2 linked regions of the Homo sapiens genome follow. The protein of the gene in region 2 purifies or fractionates together with the protein of the main gene of each other region. This does not show direct contact. Each region holds a gene or a part of one and is shown on either strand. Other genes may lie near its edges.

Region 1 (3,500 bases), on a different chromosome or scaffold from region 2:
ACCTCCCAGGTTCAAGCAATTCTCCTGCCTCAGCCTCCTGAGTAGCTGGGATTATAGGCGCCCACCACCACCCCAGTCATGCCCAGCTAATTTTTTTTTTTTTTTTTTGTATTTTTAGTACAGACAGGGTTTCACCATGTTGGCCAGGCCTGTCTTGGACTCCTGACATCAGGTGATCTGCCTGCCTCGACCTCCCAAAGTGCTGGTGTTACAGGCGTGAGCCACTGCACCTGGCCCAAATACATTTTGAACTCAAATATTATTAGGCCGGGCGCAGTGGCTCATGCCTGTAATGCCAGCACTATGGGAGGCCAAGGGGAGCGGATCACCTGAGGTTAGGAGTTCGAGACCAGCCTGGCCAACATGGTGAAGCCTCGTCTCTACTAAAAATATAAAAATTAGCTGTGTGTGGTGGTGCGTGCCTGTAGTCTAGCCTGGAGAGGCTGAGGCAGGAGAATCAGTTGAACCTGGGAGGCAGAGGTTGCAGTTAGCTGAGTTCATACCACTGCACTCCAGCCTGGACAACAGAGCAAGACTCTCAAAAAAAAAATTATATATATATATATGTATTTGGATCTAAGGAAGGAGAACAGATTAATCAGGTAAATATTTTCACTTGGTAGGAAAGCAAAGCCCTTTCTCCCATCTCCACCCAAAGGTAAATAATTTTTTTTCTTCTCTGGAAAATAACAAAATATATCAGGCTGAAGTTAATATTATCAGTACTGTTATCTGTAAGTCCTACATCCTACATCTCCATAGATTTATCTTTTTTTTTTTTTGCAAATAAGAAAAAATATTTTAAAAAATAGAAATAAGGTAAGTACCTGCTCCATTCCGTTTGATTTTCTGGGTTTTCACATGAGCCACATAAACGTGATATCACCTGTGATTCTAAAGGTCCAAGTGTTCAGAAATAGATTATGATTACGGCTCACATGTTTAACAAAAATTTGAAAGGCAGATTTTGGAAAGGTAAAGATCAAATAATCTCCTTGTGAGCTTCCAAAATACTATTTCCAGACCATCACTTGAGAAACTGAGTATTATTTTGGTCACAGATCATATAAGATCTTTTGTAGTTTAAAATTAAGTTTTTTCTTTTTTTTTAATCTTTGTGTTACCCTGACATCTTCTGGCCAAAAGAGAGAGCTGCACATCAACAGTTGAACATTCTCAAGCTCATTCTCACAAGAGGCAGGGAGCAATAAATGCTTCCCCTTCAAGAGCAGTCAGGATCACCCAACTCTATAAACTGCTTCACGCTGATATAGCATAGCCCTTCAGCTTCCACTGAGAATTTCACTGAGTAGATGAACTTGCAGCATGCCCTTTAAGAAAATGCACTAACAGGCCGGGCGCGGTGGCTCATGCCTGTAATCCCAGCACTTTGGGAGGCCGAGGCCGGCGGATCACAAGGTCAGGAGATCGAGACCATCCTGGCTAACACGGTGAAACCCCGTCTCTACTAAAAATACAAAAAATTAGCCAGGCGTGGTGGCGGGCGAATGCAGTCCCAGCTACTCGGGAGGCTGAGGCAGGAGAATGGCCTGAACCCGGGAGGCGGAGCTTGCAGTGAGCCGAGATAGCGCCACTGCACTCCAGCCTGGGTGACAGAGCGAGACTCCATCTCAAAAAAAAAAAAAAAAAGAAAAAAGAAAATGCACTAACAGAACAGAAGAAAAATAAAAGTTAAATTCTGTGGAGCCTTTTTTTTTTTTTTTTGGAGAAAAAAATCTCTAATTTGATCCAATTTTTTTTTCTTTTTTTATAGAGGGGGGTGTCACTCTTTCACCTAGGCTGGAGTGTGGTGCATAATCATAGCTCACTGCAGCCTCAAACTCCTGGGCTCAAGTGGATCCTCCCACCTCAGCCTCCCAAGTAGCTAGGACTACAGGCACAGGCTACCACACATGACTAATTTATTTATTTTATTTTATTTTACTTATTTATTTATTTATTTTGAAATAGAGATTTATTTATTTATTTAGAGATCGAGTCTCACTCTGTCACCCAGGTTGGAGTGGCACGATCTCAGCTTACTGCAATCTTGATCTCCCGGGTTCAAGCGATTCTCAGCCTCCTGAGTAGCTGGAATTACAGCCACCTGCCATCACACCCAGCTAATTTTTGTATTTTTAGTAGAGATGGGGTTTCATCATGTTGACCAGGCTGGTCTCAAACTCCTGACCTCAAGTGATCCTCCCGCCTCAGCCTACCAAAGTGCTGAGATGCTAGCATTACAGGCATGAGCCACCGTGCCCGGCCTTAATTTTTTTTTTAGACAGAGTTTCGCTCTTGTCACCCAGGCTGCAGTGCAATGGTATGATTGCAGCTCACTGCAACCTCTGCCTCCCGGATTCAAGCAATTCTCCTGCCTCAGCCTCCCGAGTAGCTGGGATTACAGTTGCCCGCCACCACGTTCAGCTAATTTTTGTATTTTTAGTAGAGACAGGGTTTCACCATGTTGGCCAGGCTGGTCTCGAACTCCTGACCTCAGGGAATCTACCCGCCTCGGCCTCCCAAAGTGCTGGGATTATAGGCGTGAGCCACCACGCCCAGGAATTTCTTTTTTTTTTTAAAACTTAACTTGGTGCTCATTTGTTACAGCACTAAATTTCTCATTTTTGGTAGAGATGGGGGAACTCACTATGTTGCCCAGGCTGGTCTCGAACTCCTGGCCTCAAGCAATCCTCCTACCTTGGCCTCCCAAAGCTCTGTGATTATAGGCATGAGCCACCATGCCCAGCCTGGATTCAAAAAAAATTTTTTTTTCTTTTTCCTTCTTTTTCTTTTTCTCGCTGCCTCCTCCAAGTAGGAAGACTACATATGGATTCAAGTTTTTTTTTCTTTTGAGGCAGTGTTCCGCTCTTGTTGCCCAGGCTGGAGTGCAGCGGCATGACTTCGGCTCACTGTAACCTCTGCCTCCCAGGTTCAAGCGATTCTCCTGCCTCAGCCTCCCAAGTAGCTGGGACTACAGGCGCGTGCCACCACACCCGGCTAATTTTCGTTTGTATTTTTAGTAGAGATGAGGTTTCACCATGTTGGCCAGGCTGGTCTCGAACTCCTGACGTCAGGTGATCCTTCCGCTTCGGCCTCCCAAAGTGCTGGGATTACAGGCATGAGCCACCGAGCCTGGCCTGGATTCAAAAATTTTTAAGATTTATTCTGGACTCAAATTGAAAAACAGGATCTTTTTAAAAGGTAGAAACTAAGTTATTTACTACAACTTTTTTTCTTTCTTTTTTTTTTTTTTTTTTTTGAGATGGGGTCTCACTCTGTCACCCAGGCTGGAGTCTGGAGTGCAGTGGCATGATCTCGGCTCAAGCAATTCTCCCACCTCAGCTTCCAGAGTAGCTGGGACCACAGGGGCACACCACCACACTTGGCTAATTTTTGTGTTTTTAGTAGAGAGGGGTTTCTCCATGTTGCCCAGGCTGGTCTCAAACTCCTGACCTCAAGGGATCTGCCCACCTCAGCCTCCCAAAGTGCTGGGATTA
Region 2 (3,500 bases):
CCAGGCTAGAGTGCAGTGGCATGATCTCAGCTTACTGCAACCTCCGCCTCCTGGGTTCAAGCGATTCTTCTGCCTCAGCCTCCCAAGTAGCTGGGACTACAGGTGCGTGCCACCATGCCCGGCTAATTTTTGTATTATTAGTAGAGATGGGGTTTCACCATATTGGCCAGGCTGGTCTTGAACTCCTGACCTCATGATCCACCCACCTCGGCCTCCCAAAGTGCTGGGATTACAGGCATGAGCCACCGCGCCCAGCCCTTTGAGTACATTTTCTAAAAAGTTGGTCATGACTTCAGATGTCTGCCTCAAAGAGATACTTGTGGTTTCCATTAAAGAACCTACCTTCCCTTTCTACAGGAGTATTTATGGGAGATGTGGGCCTGGAGGTTGGAATCCATCCTGGTTGTACTTTGCTATACTAAAGTAAGGAGTAAACCTACAAATAAATTCATATTGAAGTGTACAAAGGGGGCTCTACAATAGGTAGGAATTCTATTTAGTTTTGTTGGGCAACAAATCCTTTGAGAAGCAAATAATAGCTCACCTACAAAACTGGTGATCTGTATAAATTGGGATTTTTCATGGATCAGTTTTGCTTGGATTGAACTATATAATCACAAATATATTTATACCCAGAGAGAGAGAAAGAGTGTGTGTTGAAACTGTATCATCTTAACATGTCTACAAAAGGCAATACCTGGAAGGTGGTGGCTGCCACACAGGTTAAGCTGTCTTCCCTCTGGGAGGCAGGCTTCTGGGAACTACACATTTGGTAATCTTGCCCATAAAATGCCGATTGGACACTTATCGTAGAATGCCGAGGGCACTGTAGATTCAAATAGTCCCCATCACAGGCATAGGTGGTGTGGTTTTGCAGGAGTTTGGTTAGGTAACCTGGAAAATATTCAGTCGAGTTACTAGAGGCCCAGGAACCCACCACTCCTCCATGGGTTTGGGGACAGGAGGACGTTGGTTCCCCTGGGGAAGGGCTGTTCAATCAACAACATGTGGGATGGGGCCTCCCTAGCAGCTCTGGTGCAGAGGTCACCAAACCAGGCCCAGAGGTGGGGCACAGGAGCCAATGTCAGCTTTCATGTTGACATGGAAGGGGGGCAGGGGAGTGCTGGGTAGAGAAGGGTGGGGTCCCTGGCGAGGGCTCCACCCATGGGCTTGTGCCCATGGACCTTAGTGAGAACAGGCACTCCTGTTTTCATGTCCAAATGTTGCATTTTCCAAGACTACTCTGGCCTGCCATGACCCCCATCCTGTGCCCATAAAAAACCCAAGACCCTAGTGGGCACACACACAAGTGGCTGGACGTCGAGAGGAGCAGAGAAGCAGAAGAGCACACTGACAGACACCAGCAGATGCTGGCGGGCTTTCGACAGCGGGGCGATGTGGAAATCAGTCGGGGGCGGTCGGAGGAGAGTCTGGCTGCTGGGCAGCCCAACTCTAGGGGAAGACCACCTTCCCACTCCATCCCCCTTCTGGCTCCCCATCCGAGAGCCACCTCCTCCACTCAATAAAACCTTGCACTCCTTCTCCAAGTCCATGCGAAATCTGATTTTCCGAGTACACTAGGGCAAGAACCTGGGATACAGAAAGCCATCTGTCTTTGTGATAAGGCAGAGGGTCTAATTGAGCTGATTAACACAAGCCGCCTGCAGATGGCAAAACTGAAGGAGACCACTGTAACACATGCCCACTGGGGCTTCGGGAGCTGTAAACACCCAATTCTACAAGCTGCTGTGGGGTCGGAGCCCAAAAACGCTCCCCACGACCTGTCCATCTGCATGCCCCCTCTAGGGGTTTGAGCAGCAGGGTACTGAGAAGCGAGCCATGCCCCTGTCACGTGCCCTGCAAGGGGGGATAAGGGAACTCCTCCTGTTTCAATGTCTGGGTCAGAAACCTCGGTCTGGGATGGCCCACTGAATGGTTTGGAGGGCTCTTTCCCCTTCAGGAAGCACTAAGATATTGGCCAGGAGCCAAGGAGTCCTGAAGCACCTTTATAAACCAGGAAAAAAATCGGGGTGAGTGTCCCCTGGATGTGTGGATGCCCATCCTGAGGGAGGCTTTCATTTGCTCATCTCCCACTAGTGAGGCCATGCCTTATTGGAATGAGAGGATGCAATTTCATTTCAAGAAATCACTCTTGGCTCTGTCTTGCTGCTGGAGAGGAAAGACAGGCAGGGTGCCCTGCGTAGAGAAGGGGCCTGCTCCAAGGGCGTGGTGCAGGGAGGCGATGGTGGGGCTCTGCTGTGGGTTGAATGATGTCCCCTCAAATTCACGTTCATCAGGAACCCCAGAATGTGACATTTGGAAATAGGGTGGTTGCAGATGTAATGAATTAAGTTGGTGACATACTGGAGTAAGGTGGGCCCTTAACACCATATAACCGGTGTCCTTATAAGAAGAAAAGAAGAGACACAGAGGGAAGACAGCCATCTGCAGCTGGAATGATGCACCTGAAGCCAAGGAATGCCGAGCGTTGCCGGCCACCACCCAAAGCTGGAAAAGGCCAGGAAGGATTCTTCCCTAGAACCTTCAAAGGCAGCACAGCCCTGCCAACACCTGGATTCAGACTGTGGCCTCCAGAACTGTGAGAGGATGAATTTCTGTTGTTTTCAGCCACCCAAGCTTAGGAAAGGGGTTGCAGCAGACTGTGAATAAGACAGGCAGCCAGTCAGACTCCATGGAATTCCCAGGCAGCTTGCAGGAGCCACACTCAGCCCTGGGCTCTGAGAAGCTCTGAGGCCCAGCAGGCGCAGGGGCCTAAACTATTTCTCGGCAAGGAGGAAGGAAGGTTCATCCAGAATGTAGATCCCCTTCCTCCTTCTCACACCTCACGAGGTCACAGCGAGGCGGCTGGGAGGAGAGCCAGGGACTTTTCACTGAGGTGTGTGGGAGACAGCTTGGCAGCCCTTGGTCTCTGAAGGGAGGAGGTGGCGTGAAGGAGGGCAGCTTAGGAACTTCCCGATTCCTGCTCGATGACCTGTGTGTAAAGTATTCCTGTTTAGGTTTCAAAATCCTCTCAGAAACATAATTCTCGGAAAATCCAGGCGCCCAATCCAGCTCCCTGGCCTTCCCTGAAATCTGAAGTCAAAGGGGCTGAGCCAGCCTGCCCTGGGGTCCTCACGCCCACCAGCCCAGAGTGCTCTCTAGAGGAAGGCTACAGACATTTCCTGGCACGTTCATCCAGACGTTAGCTGTCTTGCTGAAACTCCTTTTTTCACCCTTGAAAACCACTGGAAGAATGGCCAAGAACCCAGCTATCCTGAGTAAGTTCACTTAGAGAAGCAAAATCTAACATGAGTGGCAAAACGGACATTGGCACCAGGAGTGTGGGTCAGAGTCCTGCCCCTTGGAACTACATCATTGCTTGCACAGTGTACCCCCCAGGCACCAAGAGACCAGGCCAAGACCCCTCAGTGGCCCTGGGCCTCTGGTCAGTGTCTTCCCGCCTGGCACACAGGCAGGCCCTCATAAAACAATGAGTACTG

The links.
Region 1: the proteins of EVA1C (region 2) and TMEM192 purify together in Homo sapiens (affinity purification with mass spectrometry; 4 studies listed by BioGRID and IntAct, with this or other methods). This does not show direct contact.

What each region holds. Positions count from the first base shown.
Region 1 is NC_000004.12:165,095,861-165,099,360, forward strand, and holds part of TMEM192 (transmembrane protein 192), read right to left. Parts: intron 1-3,500.
Region 2 is NC_000021.9:32,450,706-32,454,205, reverse strand, and holds part of EVA1C (protein eva-1 homolog C isoform 1 precursor), read right to left. Parts: intron 2,993-3,500; exon of another isoform or gene 2,843-2,992; intron 895-2,842; coding exon 698-894; intron 691-697; exon of another isoform or gene 1-690. UniProt on the Homo sapiens protein: Binds heparin.